Regions from separate parts of the Homo sapiens genome. Here all the other regions are linked to region 3. The links come from fine-mapping of genetic effects on gene expression. A gene starts in region 3. Each other region holds a variant in brackets. All regions are shown on one strand. Distances are between the middles of the regions. Region 1 overlaps RYR1 (ryanodine receptor 1). Region 2 overlaps RYR1 (ryanodine receptor 1). Region 3 holds the start of RYR1 (ryanodine receptor 1). Region 4 overlaps RYR1 (ryanodine receptor 1).

Region 1 (5,137 bases), 140 kb after region 3:
CCTCGATGAGCCTCAGTTTCCCCTCTGTAAAACGGGAATCATAATCTGCCTCTTTCTGGTGGAGGGAAGTGTAAAACTTAGATTACCCAGGGGAAATAAGAGAGAAAGGAGATGAGAGGAGCAGGCAGGCAGCCTGAGAAGCGCTTAGGGTGAGGACTCAGCCCTGATGCTTGCCCTGTCCCTAGGTGGATGGAGTGGAGGAGGAGCTCCCGCCAGAGCCAGAGCCCGAGCCGGAACCAGAGCTGGAGCCGGAGAAAGCCGAGTGAGTGGCCTTGGGGCTGAGGGGCCTAGCCCCTATCACTGCCTCCCTCCTAGAGTAGGAGCCTCCAGAGGTCAGGCCCCAAGGCTGTCCTGGCCACCCTGTGTCCTCGGCATCACCCAGCCCAGACTCAGGCACGGAGGAGGGGCTCTGAGTAAAAGAATCAAGAAATAAATGCTCCAACCTGGGCAACATAAAAAAAAAATTAAAATTAGCCAAGCATGGTGGTGTGTGGGGAGGCTGAGGTGGGAGGATCACTTGACCCCTGGAGGTGGAGGCTGCAGTGAGCCCTGATCGCAGCATTGCCCTCCAGCCTGGGTGACAGAGCAAGACCCTGTGTCGAAAAAGAAAAAAAAATATGGAGAGATAGAAAAATGAAAACTCCCATCTAACTGCCAGGCCTTCGCATGTGCTTTCCCGCTGCCTGGAACACAGGCCCCCATGCCTACTCTGAGTCTTTCTCATCCTTTCCAATTCTCCAGGACACCTGACCCCCTCCTAAGTTGAGGAGGTGTCTCCTCCAGATTCCCACAACCCCCTGAGCTTCCTCCATCCCAGCCCCGACCACTCTGGGCTGTCACTGCCTGGTGTCACTGTCACTGCCTGTCTCCCACATTGGACTGGAGCCCCATAAGGGCAAGTCCTGATTATCTCATCATCCCATGTACCCAGTACCATCCAAACCTGGGCCAGGCACAGGGCGGGCCCTTGGTGAATGGTTTTGAATGAATGAACTCATGCATTGCCTGCCCAGGCACCTCCTGACCTCTCTCTGTCCTGCCCTGCAGTGCCGAGAATGGGGAGAAGGAAGAAGTTCCCGAGCCCACACCAGAGCCCCCCAAGAAGCAAGCACCTCCCTCACCCCCTCCAAAGAAGGAGGAAGCTGGAGGCGAATTCTGGGGAGAACTGGAGGTGCAGAGGGTGAAGTTCCTGGTAAGGATCCAGCCAGGTCACCTGAACCTTCTTCTCCCCGGGAGCCCCACCTCTGGTGCCCACCTCTCCTGCTCACCTTGTTCTTGAGTTCATCTGTTCAAGCTCGTCTCTAAGAAGAACCCTAGCTGGGGAAAGGGCAGAGGTATCCCCAGACCTGCGGACAGGGTAGCATTTTCAGATGGCCCTCACTTGGTTCCTTGTCCCTTCCCTGCTCACTATCCTTATTCCAACCTCCATACCTCTGTTCATCGGGGCCACCCACCCACACTTCCACCTCCATCCTCTGTCCAGAGCTACATTCAGTGAGGCCACCACTCTGGCCTTCCCACCGTGGCCTGTTCTTGGCTGTCAGCCCTTACAGTCTCAGTCCCTCCACCACTCCCAGTGCTGCTGTGGAGGTCTGAGCTCTCCCAATTCCTGGGGAAGCGTTCATCTCATCCAGGCCAGGAAGAAGGGTGGGTGTTGGGAGGCAGGTCCCAGGGTTCCCTCCATCCTGTCTCCCCTCCAGGCCTGGCCCGATAGGAGGGGGTGAGGGAGGCTGGGCACGGTGGGTCACACCTGTAATCCCAGCACCTTGGGAGGCCGAGGCAGGCGGATCGCCTGAGGTCAGGAGTTCAAGACCAGACTGGCCAACATGGTGAAACCCCATCTCTACTAAAAATACAAAAAAAAAAAAAAAAAAAAATTAGCCAGCCATAGTGGTGCATGCCTGCAATTCCAGCTACTCAGGATGCTGAGGCATGAGAATCGCTTGAACCCAAGAGGCAGAAGTTTCAGTGAGCCGAGATCGTGCCACTGCACTCCAGCCTGGGCGACAGAGTGAGACTCTGCCTCAAACAAAGTGGTGGTGGGGGGCGGGGGGGCGGTGAGGGAATCATGTGGAACGAAGGTGGTTCCGTCAGAATTTGTGGGAAGAATGAGGGATGGAGGGAAAGGTGGAGAGAAAGAGGGAGAGATGGAAGATGTTCCTGGCCGTGCGAGGGGGCTCATGCCTGTAAGTCCAGTACTTTGGAAGTCCAAGGTAGGAGGATCACTGGAGCCCAGGAGTTTGGGGCAAGCCAGGGCAACATAGGGAGATCCCTGTCTCTACAAAAGAATTTTTTTTTTTTTTGAGACGGAGTCTCGCTCTGTTGCCCAGG[T/C]TGGAGTGCAGTGGCACAATCTCGGCTCACTGCAAGCTCTGACTCCTGGGTTCACGCCATTCTCCTGCCTCAGCCTCCCGAGTAGCTAGGACTACAGGCGCCCGCCGCCACGCCTGGCTAATTTTTTGTATTTTTAGTAGAAACGGGGTTTCACCGTGTTAGCCAGAATGGCCTAGATCTGACCTTGTGATCCACCCGCCTTGGCCTCCCAAAGTGCTGGGATTACAGGCGTGAGCCACTGCACCTGGCCGAATATTTTTAATCTTTTTTTTTTTTTAATTACTGCTCCTTGCAGAGCAGGGCTACCCTCTAGGCAGTGCACCCAGAGTAGCCAAAAATGTTTTTTTAATTAGCTGGGTGAGGTGACACATGCCTGTGGTCCCAGCTGTTCAGGAGGCTGAGGCGGGAGGATCACTTAAGCACAGGAGGTTGAGGCAGCAGTGAGCTATGGTTGTGTCACTTCACTCCAACCTGGGTGAGAGTAAGACCTTGACTCAAAAAAAAAAAAAATTCCCTTTCATCTTCTGTAAAGCAGGCAGGGCGACAGGTGGGGTGACCTCACTCAGGAAGCAGCATGGCCAAGTGGCTTGGAGCTTGGACTCTGGAGGCTGACTGCCCGGGTTCAAATCCCATCTCTGCCACTCGTTGGTTATGTTACCTTGAGCAAGACACCACTTCCCTGAGCCTCAGTTTCCTCATCTGTAAAGTGCGCATAACAGTAGTGCCCACTTCACAGGGGTGTACTGAGAATTAAACAAGCTCATGCAAATAAAGTTCTTAGCCCAGATGTTGGTATAAGCAAGCACTCAACAAATAGGAGGTTGAGGCCAGCCGAGGTGGCTCACACCTATAATCCTAGCACTTTGGGAGGCTGAGGTGGGTGGATCACCTGAGGTCAGGAGTTTGAGACCAGCCTGACCAACATGGTGAGACCCCGTCTCTACTGAAAATACAAAAACTAACTGAGTGTGGTGGTGCATACCTGTAATCCCAGCTACTTAGGAGGCTGAGTCATGAGAATTTGAACCCGGTAGGCAGAGGTTGCAGTGAGCCGAGATGGCGCCACTGCATTCGAGCCTGGGTGACAGAGTGAGACCTTGTCTCAAAAATAAATAAATAGGCTGGACGTGGTGGCTCAAGCCTGTAATCCCAGCACTTAGGCTGAGGAGGGCGGATCACGAGGTCAGGAGTTTGAGATCAGCCTGGCCAATATGGTGAAACCCTGTCTCTACTAAAAATACACAAATTAGCTGGGCGTGGTGGCACACGCCTGTAGTCCCAGCTACTCGGGAGGCGGCAGCAGAGGAATTGCTTGAACCCGGGCGGCAGAGGTTGCAGTGAGCCAAGATCGCACCACTGCACTCCAGCCTGGACGACAGAGCAAGACTCTGTCTCAAAAATAATAATAATAATAATTAATAAATAAATAGGAGGTTGTAGGAAAGATATTGAGAGCCCAGGTACTTTGATTGCAGGTAAATGATGGGATGAATTCTCCAGGGAAGAGGCTGATCTGTGAGCGCTTTCTCTCTTTTTCTCTTCTCTCTCAGAACTACCTGTCCCGGAACTTTTACACCCTGCGGTTCCTTGCCCTCTTCTTGGCATTTGCCATCAACTTCATCTTGCTGTTTTATAAGGTGCTGGTCCTGAAGGGCTGGGAGGGTCAGGCCCTTTTCCATGCTGTGGGATGGGAGGCTCAGCCCCTATCAGAATTTCAGGGTTCCTCCACTGAAGGGATAAGGTATTGGGCTTTGGGTCGTTAGGAGGGTTCAGGCTGGACACCTGGATCCTGGGACCCCCCTCCATGGGGGTGAGTAGGGGATATCTGGATCCATCTGGGACAGAAGCCTGAGTGTCTGTGGGAGTTAGAGCAGGAGCAGGAGCTGAGTTCTCTGCTCAGCTCGGCCACATGCCAGTCCTGTGCGCCTGGGTGCAGGCCCTCAGCTCTTGGCAACACCCACTGATTCTGTTAAGCATCTTTGGTTTCACATAAGCTAAACAGAAGTTTGCAGGGAGGAAGAAATGGGCCACTCACAGAATGGAAGGAATGGGTTAAGAACCAGGCCTCCTGAAGGACAAAGGGACCCTTGGGGTCTTGCCAGGGGTCTAGATAACAGGACAGTAAGGTAGACTAGAGAGATCGAAGCATGGCTTCTGTGGGACCCAGAAGTCCCACAGTGGGACTGCCCACTGGCGCATGACGATAGGCAAGGTGCTTACCATCCCTGTGCCTCAACTCCCTCATCTGTAAAATGGAATACCTCTTAGAGCTGTGGGGATTGAAAGAGGATAAGGCACCAGGCACAGTGGCTCACGCCTGTAATCCCAGCACTTTGGGAGGCCGAGGTAGGTGGATTACCTGAAGTCCGGAATTCAAGACCAGCCTGGCCACATGGTGAAACCCCGTCTCTACTAAAAATACAAAAAAAAATTAGCCAGGCCTGGTGGCGGGCACCTGTAATCCAAGCTATGCAGGAGGCTGAGGCAGTAGAATCCCTTGAACCCAGGAGGCAAAGGTTGCAGTGAGCCGAGATTGCACCACTACACTCCAGCCTAGGTGACAAGAGTGAAACTCCGTCCACCCCACCAAAAAAAAGAGGATGAGTGTGTGTAAGGCAGTTAGAGCAACAGTACCTGGCATATAAAAAGCACTGTGTAAATGTTTAGCTGCTACTAATTTTCATGTTAGTGTTAATATTAGTGGGCAGTCTCTTTAGGGCTCCACTATCAAGATGAACCAACTCTGTCTTCAGTTCTGTGCCACTCAGTTCAATAGGCTAATTCCCAGGTCAGAGTCTGATTTGCT
Region 2 (5,146 bases), 95 kb after region 3:
CCTTCCCTCCCTGCCAAGACTGAACCTCTGGGTTCCTGCTGAGCCCTTGGCTCACCATCCCTTTCCTTCAGGACCCTGCTGACACCTGGGCCCTGTTGAAGCCCAACTAAGCCCCCAAGACTCTCAGGGGCTCAGGGAGCCCTGCGACCCTGCATAACTCCCCAGGATCCATGAACCCCAAGCCCGGGACTGTACCCAAACCTCTGAGGTCTCAACTGTCCTGGAGACCAAAATACCCGGGCTGTAGAACCTCTTAAGCTTGCTGGGATATCAAGGAGGCCTCCCGGGACCCCACTTACCCCTTGTGTGGGACAACAAGGACAATCTCCCTCCTCTCCGATCCTTTCCAGCTTCAGGGACTCTAAGGAACCCTCCCAGGATTCTGCCCCAAGACCCCTATAGCCCTCCCCCCAGGACCACACCAACACCCTGACAACCTACTAACCCCCTGGACCCCTAAAGACCACCGACTTCTCCCCTGCTACCACCAGGACACCCCTTCCCTCAGAACCTCAGGCACCTCCCAGGACTGCTGAGTCCTGCCAGGACGCCAGAGAGCCCTCCAGGGCTCCATGGACCCCTCACCTTGGTCCTTGAGGGCTCCCCGTCCTAGAACCCCAGTGAACCCCCACCCTGCTGATGCCCCCTTTGGCCCCTGTGTAACCAGTGACTCCGTTGACCTACGTGATCCCCCATGACCTCTGCTGACCCCTTCTGATCTTCAAAGACTCCCTGCCCCACTCTGACCCCCCAGTCATCCCTCTTTGGCCATATTTGACCTTTGATGAGATCCTCTTGTCACCCTTTGCCTCTTCCCAGACCTCCACGAGGCCCCTCGAATCCTTACTGTATCTTCAAGGTGACTCTGTGACCCTCCGGCCCCTCTAGGACCCCTTCTGACCCCGTCAACCTCTGCATCCTTTTGTTTCTCTCAGACCCCCACCCCCACCCCAGAAAAACCTCTTCAGTTCCTGGGGTGCTGGGCCTGGAAGGAAAGGGTTGTGGGTCAGGAAGGAGGATGGGACCTCCAGAGTGACCCAGCCTGGCTCTGTCTCCCCAGAAAGACACAGATGAGGAGGTCCGGGAATTTCTGCACAACAACCTTCACCTTCAGGGAAAGGTATGCCTCCTTCCTCTGCAAGCAAAAGAAGCAAGTCAGAAAGTAACCACAATATTAGTGAAGGTTTGAGCATTTACCAAAGACCAGGCATTGAAGAAAGACCTCAAAGGTCAGGAGTTTGAGACCAGCCTGGCCAATGTGGCGAAACCATGTTTCTACTAAAAATACAACAATTAGGCCGGGCACAATGGCTCATGCCTGTAATCCCAACACTTTGGAAGGCCAAGGCGGGCAGATCACCTGAGGTTAGGAGTTCGAGACCAGCCTGGCCAACGTGGTGAAACCCCGTCTCTACTAAAAGTACAAAATTAGCTGGGTGTGATGGCGGGTGCCTGTAGTCCCGGCTACTCAGGAGGCTGAAGCAGGAGAATCGCTTGAGCCCAGGAGGCAGAGGTTGCAGTGAGCTGAGATCGCACCACTGCACTCCAGCCTGGGTGATGGGGCGAGGCTCCGTCTCAAAACAAAAAGATGAAGAAGAAGAAAGGCCTCAACATGCACTCACCCATTGAGTCCTCCCAAAAACGGAAAGGGGACATCCGGCGGACACTGTGGGAAGGGTCCCTCACGCCGGCCACTCCTTCTTCCTCCCTTCAGGTCGAAGGCTCCCCGTCTCTGCGCTGGCAGATGGCTCTGTACCGGGGCGTCCCGGGTCGCGAGGAGGACGCCGATGACCCCGAGAAAATCGTGCGCAGAGTCCAGGAAGTGTCAGCCGTGCTCTACTACCTGGACCAGGTGGGTGGGGCCGGAGGGGTCTTTCTACTGGGTCTCTGGGCGGAGCCTGGCGGGGGGAGGGGCTTCAAGGATGTGGGTGGGGTCTGGAGATGACTATTAAGTTTTGGGGCAGGGCAGGAGGTGGAGCCTCGAGTTTAAGGCGAGGCTTAGAATGGATCGGGGGAGGGGTCTGCTGCTTAATCTTGCATCTGGGGGCGGGACAGGGAAGGGGCAGATCTTTAGGTCTAGGGGTGGGGCCTAGAGGAGATGCGTTGAGTTTGTGGGCAGGGCCTTGGGTGGGTCGTAGAATTGGTCGTGGCCTGG[C/G]TCGTGGTCCTGGCTCTGTGGGACCTGGCCTAGGATGGAAACTTAGGTCTGGAGGCGGAGTCAGGACCCTGACTCTGTTGGTGGAGACAAGGTTTTCCTTCTGCCGTGTGAGTCTTAACCTGAATATGGACTTCGACACAGCTGGGCAGTTTCATCCAGGGCTGGGAGTGAGAGGGGCAGGGTCTGGGGATGTGACTGTCCTGCTATCCCCTCCCCAGACCGAGCACCCTTACAAGTCTAAGAAGGCCGTGTGGCACAAGCTTTTGTCCAAACAGCGCCGGCGGGCAGTCGTGGCCTGTTTCCGTATGACGCCCCTGTACAACCTGCCCACGTAAGGCCCCCAGGGACAAGGGAAGCGTGAAGGGCTGCGGAGAAAGGGTGGCTGGAGAGTCTGGAGAATGGAGGGCCAACGTGATGGGGCCTTGAGGGTGGTTGGGGGCTGCAGGCGCATGGGAGGTCGGGAAGCACGGAGGAGGGCGCGTCCCAGTGACGTCACACCTCTCCCCTGCAGGCACCGGGCATGTAACATGTTCCTGGAGAGCTACAAGGCTGCATGGATCCTGACTGAAGACCACAGTTTTGAGGACCGCATGATAGATGACCTTTCAGTGAGCTGGGACCCGCCTGGGGGAGTGGGGGGCGAGCTGGATAGGGCTGGGGCGGAGGCCACCCTTGGCACACCTCCAGGGGTCGGCCCTCCACATCAAGGGGTATAGAAATGCCAGCTCCTGGCTTGAGTAGAACCAAAGTAGGGCGCAGGATGTGGGAAAAGAGAAAAAAAAATCCAGACCAACAGGGACATGGGGGCAGTGACAGGAGGGGACTCTAGAAACCCTCTCCCCAAGTCTCCCCTCTCCCACCAGAAAGCTGGGGAGCAGGAGGAGGAGGAGGAAGAGGTGGAAGAGAAGAAGCCAGACCCCCTGCACCAGTTGGTCCTGCACTTCAGCCGCACTGCCCTGACGGAAAAGAGGTGAAGACTCTTGCCAGGGCCCCAGAAATGCCCCCAAGGTCCTGGGGCCACCCCCAGCCCAGCAGCTTCCCTGTGCCTCAGGAGAGGCCCTCCAGGTCCTGGGGGAGCCCAAGACAGACGGATCTTTAAATATCACTTTGCTGGTCAGGCACGGTGGCTCACGCCTGTAGTCCCAGCAATCTGGGAGGCTGAGGCAGGCAATCACTTGAGCCCAGGAGTTCAAGACCAGCCTGGCCAATATGGCAAAACCCCGTTTCTACAAAAATACAATAAATAGCCAGGCTTGGTGGTGGGCACTTGTAATCCCATCTACTCAGGAGGCTGAGGCGGAAGAATCGCTTGAACCTGGGAGGCGGAGGTTGCAGTGAGCCGAGATCATACCACTGCACTCCAGCCTGGGCGACAGAGCGAGACTCTGTCTCAAAAAGAAAAGAAAAGGAACGTAAATGTCACTTTGCTAGGACAGGCACAGCCAACATACACCGTTGCATGGCTGAACACTTCACAAGGGCATGTCTGAGGGGTTCGTATCACAGACAATGTAGATTAACTAGGCTTTTCTAGAAGAAAGTGTCTTGCTCAAATAAAATCAGTATATTATGAAAAAAATCCATATGTATGACAAATTTCCAACAGACAGAAGTAGTGGGGAGGTTTTCTGTAATTCCCTCAAAAGCTTCATGTAGGCTAATGACAGGCTTAGTAATAAATAATTGTGATGCAGATGGCGCAGCTGCTGCCGCTGCTGCTGACAGTAGCAGGCAGCCATTCATCAAATGCTTATTATGTGTCAGGCACCAAGCTAAGCGGGGATATCTATATCCTCTCACTTAACCGCCACACTGTGAGACGGATTATTGCATCTCCTTTGTGTGGATAAGGGAATGAAGGCACAGGGATTTATTTTTCATTTTGTTTATTTATTTATTTATTTATTTTTGAGATGGAGTCTCGCTCTGTCACCCAGGCTGGAGTGCAGTGGCACAATCTCAGCTCACTGCAACCTCCGCCTCCCAGGTTCAAGCAAGTGGGATTACAGGCGCCCACCACTACGCCCAGCTAATTTTTGTATTTTTAGTAGAGACGGGCTTTCACCATGTTGGCCATGCTTGTCTCAAACTCCTGACCTCAAGTGATCTTCCCGCCTTGGCCTCTCAAAGTGCTGGGACTACAGGCGTGAGCCACTGCACCTGGCCTACTTTTTTATTTTTTGAGAAGATCTTGCTCTTCTTGCCCAGGCTGGAATGCAGTGTCATATCATAGCTCATTGCAGCTCAGACCCCCCACTCCACATCACCCCAGGCTCAAGAGATCCTCCTGCCTCAACCTCCTGAGTAGCTGGGACTACAGGCACGTGCCTCCATGCCTGGCTATTTTTTTTTTTTTTTTCTGGTAGAGATGGGGGTCTCACTATGTTGCCCAGGCCGGTCTCAAACTCCTGAACTCAAGCAATCCTCCCCACTCAGCCTCCCAAAGTGTTGGGATTACAGGCATGAGCCACCGCGCCTGTCAGGGATTTGTTTTTCTTACATAACGTGAAGTCAAGAGCTAAAGACTTCAGGACTGGGCAGTGGCACAGGGACACTGACAGGGGCCCAGGGTCTTTCTAGCTTTCTGCTCTGCCCTTCTTAGCTTTTGTCTGTAGTCCTGGGTGGATGCTGCACTTCTAGGCATCACAGCCACATGCCAGGCAGAAAGAAGGACAAAGGGTCCCCACTCTTCACCCTCAGCAAGATCTTTGGTCTCTCTCTCTTTTTTTTTTGAGACGGAGTTTTGCTCTTGTTGCCCAGGCTGGAGTGCAATGGCGCAATCTCGGCTCGCTGCAATCTCCACCTCCCGGGTTCAAGCGATTCTCCTGCCTCAGCCTTCCGAGTAGCTGGGATTACAGGTGCATGCCACCATGCCCAGCTATTTTTCTTTTTTCTTTCTCTTTTTTTTTTTTTTTTTTGTATTTTTAGTAGAGACAGGGTTTCGCCATGTTGTCCAGGCTGGTCTCAAACTCCTGACCTCAGGTGATCTGC
Region 3 (5,146 bases):
GCTGAGCTCAGGAGTTCGAGACCAGCCTGGGCAACACAGTGAAACCCGATCTCTACTAAAATACAAAAGAAATTAGCCAGGTGTGGCAGTATGCGCCTGTAGTCCTGGGGGTGCTGAGGCAGGAGAATTGCTTGAACCCAGGAGGCGGAGGTTGCAGTGAGCCGAGATGGTGCCACTGAACTCCAGCCTGGGCGACAGAGCAAGACTCTGTCTCAAAAAAAAAAAACAAAAAAAAGTGAGCAGGGATCACAATGAGCAGATAACAAAGAAACCCAAAACTCTGATAGGCACTTGAGAAGATGCTAGAAATTGTTGGTAACTCATCAGGGAAGTGGAAATTAAAATGACAGCGAGTCCAGGCGCGGTGGCTCTTGCCTGTAATCCTAACACTTTGGGAAGCTGAGGTAGGAGGATCACTTGAGACCAGCAGTTCAATACCAGCCTGGGCAATATAGTAAGACCCCACCTCTATAAAAAATTTAAAAGTTAGTTGGGCGTGGTGGCACAAGCCTGTTGTCCCAGCTGCTCGGGAGGTTGAGGTGGGAGGATCCCTTGAGCCCAGGAGTTCCGGGCAGCAGTGAACCATAATTGCGCCACTGCACCCCAGCCTGGGCAACAAAGTGAGATCTCATCTCTAAAAATAAAATAGAGAAAATAAATTAAAAAACAGTGAGTCACCCTATATAAATCTGGCAAAAATTAGTTAAGTTGGAAATGCCACATGAGGGTTGGGGATATGGGGACCCGGGGACCCTCATGCACTGGTAGTGAGTAGCCATTCCGAGGGCTACCCAGCACTACTTACACAAATGGTGCGCATGGATATGTCACCCAGCAATTAGCTTCTGGGTACGCACAATAAAACATTCTCCCTCAGCTTCCTGGGGGACCAATACACAGATGTTCCCTCCAGCATTATTTCGGGAGAGCTGGAGGCAGCCTGGGTGTCCGCTCCCAGTAGGGGTAGGTGGAAAAACAGAAGGGATCAGTCACCAGAGAATCCTGCAAAGCCACCACTGTCACACACCAGGTGTCCACAGAGCAACAAGGGTAGGTCTTAAAACACATAATGATGACTGACAAAAATAAGAAACACTATTAATATCTTATGATATAATGCTCAATGACACAGAATCATTTTACATTTACATAAAGTTTTAGGGAAAAACAATATTTAATATACAACTATGCGTTGGATAATGTATAACAGATACAACATAGAATTGTATTGTACTGTATAATTATATTAGCCTAAATATATAATTATATAATTATACATTATATAATGCCAAATTATATAATTCCATAATATGACACAAACTTTTGTGCTATTTATTGCAGTTGTGTTAACATCAGTATTTAATTATGGAACACCTAGAAACCTGCTATACCTTGAAGAACGGTTTCTATGTAATTTTGTTTAACTATGGGATATTGTTTTATATAACTTACTGTATACCACTACATGTTAATAAAAAAAATTTTTTTTTTTTTTTTTGAGGTGGAGCCTTGCTCTGTCACCTGGGCTGGAGTGTAGTGGTACAATCTCGGCTCACTACAACCTCTGCCTCCTGGGCTTAAATGATTCTTGTTCCTCAGCCTCCCAAGTAGCTGGGATTAGAGTCGTGTGACACCATGCCCAGCTAATTTCTGTGTTTTTAGTAGAGTCAGAGTTTCACCATGTTGACCAAGCTGGTCTCAAATTCCTGGCTTCAAGTGATCTGTCTGCCTTGGCCTCCCAACGTGCTGGGATTACAGGCATGAGCCACTGTGTCTGGCCTAGTAATAATTTTAATAGGGCTGGACGTGGTGGTTTACACCTGTAATCCCAGCACTTTGGGAGGCTGAGGTGGGCGAATCATGAGGTCAGGAGTTCGAGACCAGCCTGGCCAACATGGTGAAACCCCGTCTCTACCAAAAATACAAAAATTAGCCGGGTGTGTTGGCAGGTGCCTGTAATCCCAGCTACTCAGGAGGCTGAGGAGGAGAATCGTTTGAACCTGGGAGGTGGAGGTTGCAGTGAGTCAAGATCTTGCCACTGCACTCCAGTCTGGGCAACAAGAGCAAGAGTCCGTCTCAAAATAAATAAATAAATAAATAAATAATAATAATAGCAACACTTACATTACATTAACCAGGCACTGGCACTGTTTTAAGTTTTATCTCATTTAATTAATTATCTCATTTAACTCTCCCAACAACCACGTGAGGTCGGTACTATTAATATTCCCCTTACTGGATGGGGAAACCGAGGCACAGAGAAGCTAAGTGGCTTATCCATGTAACTCAAGGAAGTGGCAAGGCTGGGTGGGATTCAGATCCAGATTATCTGGCTTGGAGTCGGAGTCCTTGTTCTTTTTTTTTTTTTTTTCAGACGAAGTCTCGCCCAGGCTGGAGTGCAGTGGCTCAATCTCGGCTCACTGCAGCTTCTGCCTCCCGAATTCAAGGAGTTCAAGCAATTCTCCTGCCTCAGTTTCCCAAGTGGCTGGGATTACAAGCATGTGTCACCACGCCTGGCTAATTTTTGTACTTTTAGTAGAGACGGGGGTTTCACCATGTTGGCCAGGCTGGCCTCGAACTCCTGACCTCAAGTGATCCACCCACCTCGGCGTCCCAAAGTGCTGAGATTACAGGGGTGAGCCACCACTCCCGGCCGGAGTCCTTGTTCTTAATCACTATGTTTGGTGCTTTTTAAAGTCAGGAGATCTGGTGCACATCCCTGCTCTGCTGCGTGATATCTTGCAAGAACTTCCCCACTCAGAGCCTCAGTCTGCCCTCTGTGAAATGGGAGAATGATGGCACGTTACTTACCGTGGTGGGGAGAAAGCGCAGGTACCTCCTAGATACTCTCTCTCCCACCCCACCTCCGGCGGCCAACGGCCAAGCAAACCTCCAGCCAAGATTTGGGGTATGTGGGCAGGGCTCCGGCGAAGGGGAGTGGCCGGGGAGTCCTGGTCCAATGGGGCCCGGGGGCGGGGACTTCCTCCCATCTCTGTCCAGCATGCGTGTACTCCTCGCAGTTCCATCTACCTCGCGGGTGCCTCTGGTGTCTCCAGAGGTCTCCGACCCCAGCCCGCCCCCAGCCCTCCCGCCCAGCCCGCAGCCCCCTCCCTCTGTTCCCCGACCTCAGACCCTGGGCTTCCGACCTCGACATCATGGGTGACGCAGAAGGCGAAGACGAGGTCCAGTTCCTGCGGACGGTGCGTATCTCTGGGTTAGGGGCCTGTGGGGCTATCTCTTGGGGCTCTCTGAGGGTCTCTCTGTCTCTGAATGTCCCTGTCCGGCTTGCTGGTGGTCTCTGAGACTCGAGGTCTCTTCCTATGTCACTTTGAGTGACTGTCACTCTGTCTTTTAGTCTCCTTCACCTTTCTCACTACAGAGAATTAGTAGGATTGGGGACTCCAGAATGGGAAAGGGATCTTCGGTTGCCCTCTCTTCTGACTTTAGCGATTTGTCCCCCACAAGAAGGACCCCCGAGGGAGCACACCCTCACACCATCTTGGAAGCAGGCACTTGGGGAAGGTGGTTCTAATTCCTGGGCTTGATTTAGCCATCCCCCCACCCCCACCTTAGCCCTAATTCTCTTTTTGCTCCAGACTCTGACCTATTTAAATTCTTGAGAAGGGAGCTGGAGTGAGCTGGAGGACACAGCTGCTTCCAACTCCTAGCCCTTGAGGGTCTTGTGGGGGAGGGATCTCTTGGGTTCTGGGTCTTTCTTTCCTTCTTCGTTTTGGGCAGGAGGGCTGCTCCCAATGGCTGCTAATGGTCTTGCAGGGTCTCTGGGTGGTGTCTCTCCCCATCTGTCTCTTTGGGTGTCTCCATGTCTCTGTCTCTTCCTCCATCTCAGTCTCCCTGTCTCTGTTTCTTAGCTTAAGGCCCTCTGATTTTCGCTGTCTCTCTAGCTGGGTTACTCCCTGCATCTGAGCCCCAGCTGGGGGCAGGGATGGGAATTGGAACAACAGGTGTCCCTCCCAGAATAGCCGGCTTTTCTGGGGCCTGGGCAGGGGATGGGGAGGGGATGAGAGGGAGGAGGGGCTGCCATCTCCTTGTCCTTCCCATCTTCCCCTCCCAGTGGCTCCGCAGGGTGTGGGGTCGTAAATATGGGAGGGGACGTCCTCTCCTCTGGGCTAGGTCTGCTGACCAGACGCTAGCCCCGCCCCTCCCCCCGGGGCCCTGGAGCCACACAGGAAATGCTGACACAGCATTCCTGCCCCAGAATAGGACCCTGGCGAGCCGGGTCCGGTTTCCTGGGAGAGAGGAACAAACAGCTGGGGCTGGTAGTGAAGGATGGGGACAGCTGGGAAGGGGCCTAGCTTCAGCCGAGACTCTCTCCCCAGCCCCAGCCCCTCAGCAGACACCATGGGTCGGGCCCTCCCCAGCCCTAATAAGACCATGGCCATGGCCACTGGCTCTTGAGCTGTCGCTCTAAACCAGGCCCTGTGCCCTGGGCCTCTGCCTCCTGAGACATCTAATTATATCCTTGCTGCCCTGTCTTCTGAGGTAGGGTCCTATCTTTATCTCCCTGACAGATTTGAGGGAAACCAAGGCCCGAATGGTAGAATCACTCACCCAAGGTCAAGGCCAGGAAGTGGCATCTCTGGATGCCCCTGGTGCCCAGCCCCATTGCCTTCACCAGAGAAAATCTGGGCCCAGACTTGCCAAAGTAGTCAGCGTTAGGGTTCTGGAGGCTTGGCCCTGGAATCTCTCCACCCCAGACTGGGTCAGTTTTTCTGATTGTTACTGAGGTCGTGGTGGATTTCTCAAAACTTTCTGGAGGCTGGGCTCAGTGGCTCATGCCTGTAATCTCAGCACTTTGGGAGGCCAAGGTGAGCGGATCACTTGAGGTCAGGAGTTTGAGACCAGCCTGGCCAACATGGTGAAACCCCGTCTCTACTAAAAATACAAAAAAATATTAGCCAGGCGTGGTGGTGCATGCCTGTAATCTTAGCTACTCGGGAGGCTGAAGTGGGAGGATTGCTTGAACCTGGGAGGCAGAGGTTGCAGTGAGCCGAGATTGCGCCACTGCACACTCCAGCCTGGGCGACAGGGCGAGACTCCATCTCAGAACAAAAAACCTTCTGGACCACATCCCGCCCATAAGAAACATTCTGTCTTACAACTCAGTACATGCACACATGCATAGACA
Region 4 (5,146 bases), 110 kb after region 3:
TTCTCTCTGACTAGCCTATTGGGTCACATGTCCCTCCCTGAACCAATCATCATAGGCTTAGGAAAGAAAGCTTTGACTGACCAGGCCCGGTCATATACCCACCTATAGAACCAGGAGGTAGGGTTAGCCCCATGTGCTCTGACTGTGGGATGGGGGACTCCGCAGGTGAAAATTGAGGGATTGTAAAGAGAGGAGGGGGACTGAATCATGGGTAGGCACAAACCACAGGCGCCCACCCACTGTAAGATCTTGAGATTAGGAGTGTCGGGACCTTAGGCGCAGAATGCAGAGCTTTGGAACTGTGGAAATACATTAGGATTGGAATCAACAACTGATAGAACTAGCATGGGAGCAAAAGATCCTTACATCCCATTTATCTGGTATCATCTCCTCCCCTCTCCATTTTATTTGGTGGAACCATATGAAATTACCACTTTGGATCTGGCACGGTGGCTCATACCTGTAATCCCAGCACTCTGGGAGCCCTAGGCGGGCAGATCACCTGAGGTCAGGAGTTCGAGACCAGCCTCACCAACATGGAGAAACCCCATCTCTGTTAAAAGTAAAAAATTAGCTGGGTATGGTGGCGCATGCCTGTAATCCAGCTACTCGAGAGGCTTAGGCAGGGGAATTGCTTGAACCTGGGAGGCAGAAGTTGCAGTGAGCCGAGATTGCGCCATTACATTCCGGCCTGGGCAACAAGAGCAAAACTCTGTCTCAAAAAGAAAGAAATTACCACTTTGTGAGCCAAAAGTGATCACATGTTGGCAATTTTATGTGACTCAACCTAACATAAATAGGGGCCATGAGGCAAAACTTTGTATTGGAGGTTTCTATGGGCCCTACACTGTGGCCCTATGTTCCCCGCAGACGGCTTACCAGAAAGCACATGGCTGTCTCTGCAGCCTTCCTCCTGAACCCAGAGTCCCACTCTTGCCATCACACATTATATTCAACATACATCTGTCAATCCCACCGTAGGCCAGGCACAGTGCTGGGCTCACATCCCTTCCTAGACCTGGGTCTCTGTCCCCAGTGTTTGTCTCTGTCTGTCTCTGTCTCTCTCTGCCCCAAATGTCTGCCCCGCAAGCCTCTCAGTCCTCCTTGTCTGCCAGCCTTCCCACTACCCATCACCTATCGAGCCCGTCCCCCAAGTGCCAACCCCACCCCCACAATCTTGTCTCTCTGCCCCTTCCCCTGCTTCCGAGGAACATGTCTGGACTCGGGTCCCCTCGGAGGTAAGAGGGGAGAAAACGGGTTTAGGCCCTGCTGGGTAGGTGAGGAGGGGGAGAAGCAACAGAGGTGGGGGAGGTGTATGCTGAGACCAGCCCTCACCGAGCTGGGATCTCTAGGACTCAAGCCAGATCGAGCTGCTGAAGGAGCTGCTGGATCTGCAGAAGGACATGGTGGTGATGTTGCTGTCGCTACTAGAAGGTAAACACCCAGGAGTGAGGGTGAGGGAACAGTAAAGAGGTTCAGAGAAGCCTGAGAATGGCCCCCTGAGACCCGGGAGACCCTAATCCTCAACCCCATCTGACATCGTGTCAGGATCCATGGGTTGATGAAGAAGCCATAATAGGCCAGATGCGGTGGCTACACCTGTAATCCCAGCACTTTGGGAGGCCGAGGTGGGAAGATCACCTGAAGTCAGGAGTTTGAGACCAGCCTGGGCAACATGGTGAGACCCTGTCTCTACTAAAAATACAAAAATTAGCCTAGTGTGGTGGTGTGTGCCTGTAGACCCAGCTACTCGGGAGGCTGAGGTGGGAGGATCACCAGAGCCCGGGAGGTCCAGGCTGCAGTGAGCTGTGATCACACCACTGCACTCCAGCCTGGGTGACAGAGCAAGACCCTGTCTCAAAAAAACAAACCCCAAAAACAAACCAAATGTCCAAATGTGGCAAAAGATAAACAATTGATGAATGTGGATATATTAGGATCCCTTTTTTTTTTTTTTCTTTTCTGAGACGGAGTCTCGCTCTGCCGCTCAGGCTGGAGGTGCGGTGGCGCGATCTCGGCTCACTGCAAGCTCCGCCTCCCAGGTTCACGCCATTCTCCTGCTTGGCCTCCCCGGTAGCTGGGACTACAGGCGCCCGCCACCACACCTGGCTAATTTTTTTTTTTTTTTTTTTGTATTTTTAGTAGAGACGGGGTTTCACCATGTTGGTCAGGATGGTCTGGATCTCCTGACTTCGTGATCCTCCCGCCTCAGCCTCCCAAAGTGCTGGGATTACAGACTTGAGCCACTGCGCCCAGCCTACATTAAAATTTAAAAATTACAAAAATAAACTGGAGCCAAGCTTCAGCTGCTGCCTTTAGAGGGAGTGTGGGATCGCAGTTTGCCAATCTCTACCTCTCCTTGCTGCTTACCACTGGCTAGCCTCAGTCTTCTGTGGACCCTCCTGACTGTGTGTACTGGTGGAAGTTTTAGTTGTGTAAGCCCTGAGGTCATGCAGCTCTGAGTTCAAATCCATTCTCCCCACTTTACTGGCTATGTAACTTTGAGTGCATGACTTTCTCT[A/G]TGTCTCAGTTTCTCTTCCTAAAAGTAGAGTCACACACTTCCCTTTTTGTGTGATTGTGCCAGGGTAGCATTTGGCACCTACCTTTAGCGTACATCATCATTATCTTTTTTTTTTTTTTTGAGACAGAGTCTCACTCCATCACCCAGGCTGGAGTGCAGTGGCACGATCTCGGCTCTGCAACCTCCGCCTCCCAGGTTCAAGCAATTCTCGTGCCTCAGCCTCCCAAGTAGCTGGAAATACAAGCACATGCCACCACGCCCAGCTGATTTTGTATTTTTAATAGAGACGGGGTTTCACCATGTTGGCCAGGCTGGTCTCAAACTCCTGGCCTCAAGTGATCCACCCACCTCGGTCTCCCAAAGTGCTGGGATTACAGGCGTGAGCCACCACGTCCGACCTGACATCATTAGCTTTACTGGGGGAGGTGGGCAAAGGCAGGATCAGCCAGGTTGGCACAGGAGGCTGACGCAGGTCAGGAAGGGACCTGTGGAGGGGAGGCTGTGGCTGGCCAGGGACACTCCAGCAGCGTGGTGGCTCCTGGGCTGGAAAGAGAGGCAAGCCTGGTGGGGCCCCAGAAGGGAGTGTTCACCGGCCACACTGACCTGGGGCTGCCTGCAGGGAACGTGGTGAACGGCATGATCGCCCGGCAGATGGTGGACATGCTCGTGGAATCCTCATCCAATGTGGAGATGATCCTCAAGTTCTTCGACATGTTCCTGAAACTCAAGGACATTGTGGGCTCTGAAGCCTTCCAGGACTACGTAACGGATCCCCGTGGCCTCATCTCCAAGAAGGACTTCCAGAAGGTGGGTGTGGGACATCGTGTGGGCCCAGGACTTGGGTGGGGTTGCCAAGGGCCAGCCATACCCTTCTGGCTGGCTGCCTCAGGCAAGAGACATCTCTGCAAGCCTCACTTTCCTTGTTTGTAAAATGAGGATAAAACAGTCCTTGGGTTATATGTATTCTGTTTTATTTCATTTTAGAGACAAGGTCTTTCTCTGTTGCCCAGGCTGGAGTGCAGTGGCGTGATCATAGCTCACTGCAGCCTTGACCTCCTGGCTTAAGCAATCCTCCCACCTCAGCCTCCTGAGTAGTTGGGACGACGGGTGTGTGACATCATGCCTGGCTAATTTTTAAGTTTATTTTTTGTAGAGATGTGGTCTCACTACATTACCCAGGCTCCTCTTGAACTCTTGGGCTCCAACAATTCTCCTACCTTGGCCTCCCAAAGTGCTGGGATTATAGGCATGAGCCACCTCGCTCAGCCCCCTTGGGTTATTTTGAGGATGAAATGCATTAACACAGATGAGAACCGTTATTACTGTTATCTTTATTGATAGTCATAACATTATCATTATTGTGAATAGGCATCAGTTATTCCATCAATAAACATTGGCTGGCTTTCTTCTCTGTGTAGGGCCTGTAGTGACACTATTGACGCATCAATGACCAAGATAGACACAGCCCGTGCTTTCATGGGTTTATAGTCTAATGGGGGAGGCAGTCACTAACTAGACCATTCCAAGTCTAAATAATGAGCCTGCTAGGAGGGAAGTGCTGGAACATCCTTATTCAGAAACCCACTCCTCCTCCTCTAACCACCTCTCCCATCCTAACTCTCCATCTTTTCTTCTGAGCCTCAGTTTCCTACTCTGTAAAATGGGGATAGGATAATCACATTAACCACTAACTATTGGCAGTGTGCGGTGGTTCATGCCTATAATCCCAGCAATTTGGGAGGCCGAGGTGGGAGGATCGCTTGAGCCCAAGAGTTCGAGATCAGCCTGGGCAACCTAGTGAAACCCTGTATCTATAAAAATAAAAATAAAACAACTATTAACTATTGTGAGGATGGGCAGTGCGGGCAGTACCTGGAATATGGTGAGTCCTCAAGAGATGTTAGCTGCTATTACTACTCCCTGATCTTTAATGTTACCATTTTGTTAACTTTTTATTTTGAAATAACTTCAGGTTTATAGAGACGTTGCAAGAACAGCACATAGAATTTCTGAATACCTTTCACCCACATTGCCCAAATGTTTTCTATTTACTATTTACTCCATCATGATTTCCCTTTCCTTTCCTTTTTTTTTTTTTTTTTTTTTTTTGAGACGGAGTTTTGCTCTTGTTGCCCAGGCTGGAGTGCAGTGGTGCAATCTCAGCTCAGTGCAACCTCCGCCTCCTGGGTTCAAGCGATTCTCCTGCCTCAGCCTCCTGAGTAGCTGGGATTACAGGCACGCACCACCATGCCCAGCTAAATTTGTGTGTGTGTGTGTGTGTGTGTGTGTGTGTGTGTGTGTGTGTGTGTGTGTTGTATTTTTAGTAGAGATGGGATTTCACCATGTTGGCCAGGCTGGTCTTGAACTCCTGGCCTCAAGTGATCTGCCTGCCTCGGCCTCCCAAAGTGCTGGGATTACAAGCATGAACCACCTCGCCTAGCCAATTTCCCTTTACTTTGAAACACTTCAGCGTGTATCTCCTGAGAACAAATTCATTCTCCTACCTAAGCACAGGACAATTATGCTAATCAGGAAATTAACATTGGCACAATGCTGCTATCTAATCCTAGACCTTATTCAGTTTCCCTTGTTGAATAAATTTCTTTCGTCAATGTCTTTTCTTTG

The links.
Region 1: its variant is fine-mapped to the expression of RYR1 in lung (TOPMed, PIP above 0.99).
Region 2: its variant is fine-mapped to the expression of RYR1 in whole blood (INTERVAL, PIP above 0.99).
Region 4: its variant is fine-mapped to the expression of RYR1 in whole blood (TOPMed, PIP above 0.99). The same link has a PIP of 0.9 or more in blood mononuclear cells.

Annotation. Positions count from the first base shown.
Region 1 is chr19:38,566,726-38,571,862 of GRCh38, forward strand. It overlaps RYR1 (ryanodine receptor 1), which reads left to right. Exons shown (of 106, transcript NM_000540.3): 92 at 186-262; 93 at 1,048-1,192; 94 at 3,882-3,968. Among named protein-coding and RNA genes, the nearest start is that of MAP4K1-AS1, 27 kb to the right of the region's middle. RefSeq lists a silencer at 2,591-2,791 and an enhancer at 2,654-2,773. The variant T/C (reference allele first, on the strand shown) is at 2,332.
Region 2 is chr19:38,525,933-38,531,078 of GRCh38, forward strand. It overlaps RYR1 (ryanodine receptor 1), which reads left to right. Exons shown (of 106, transcript NM_000540.3): 72 at 1,061-1,120; 73 at 1,715-1,852; 74 at 2,374-2,486; 75 at 2,667-2,763; 76 at 3,019-3,125. Among named protein-coding and RNA genes, the nearest start is that of MAP4K1-AS1, 68 kb to the right of the region's middle. The variant C/G (reference allele first, on the strand shown) is at 2,156.
Region 3 is chr19:38,430,675-38,435,820 of GRCh38, forward strand. It overlaps RYR1 (ryanodine receptor 1), which reads left to right and starts at 3,017. Exons shown (of 106, transcript NM_000540.3): 1 at 3,017-3,200. The coding sequence starts at 3,156. RefSeq lists a silencer at 2,900-3,039 and an enhancer at 3,771-4,346.
Region 4 is chr19:38,545,093-38,550,238 of GRCh38, forward strand. RYR1 (ryanodine receptor 1) reads left to right here. Exons shown (of 106, transcript NM_000540.3): 88 at 1,353-1,434; 89 at 3,141-3,328. Among named protein-coding and RNA genes, the nearest start is that of MAP4K1-AS1, 49 kb to the right of the region's middle. The variant A/G (reference allele first, on the strand shown) is at 2,522.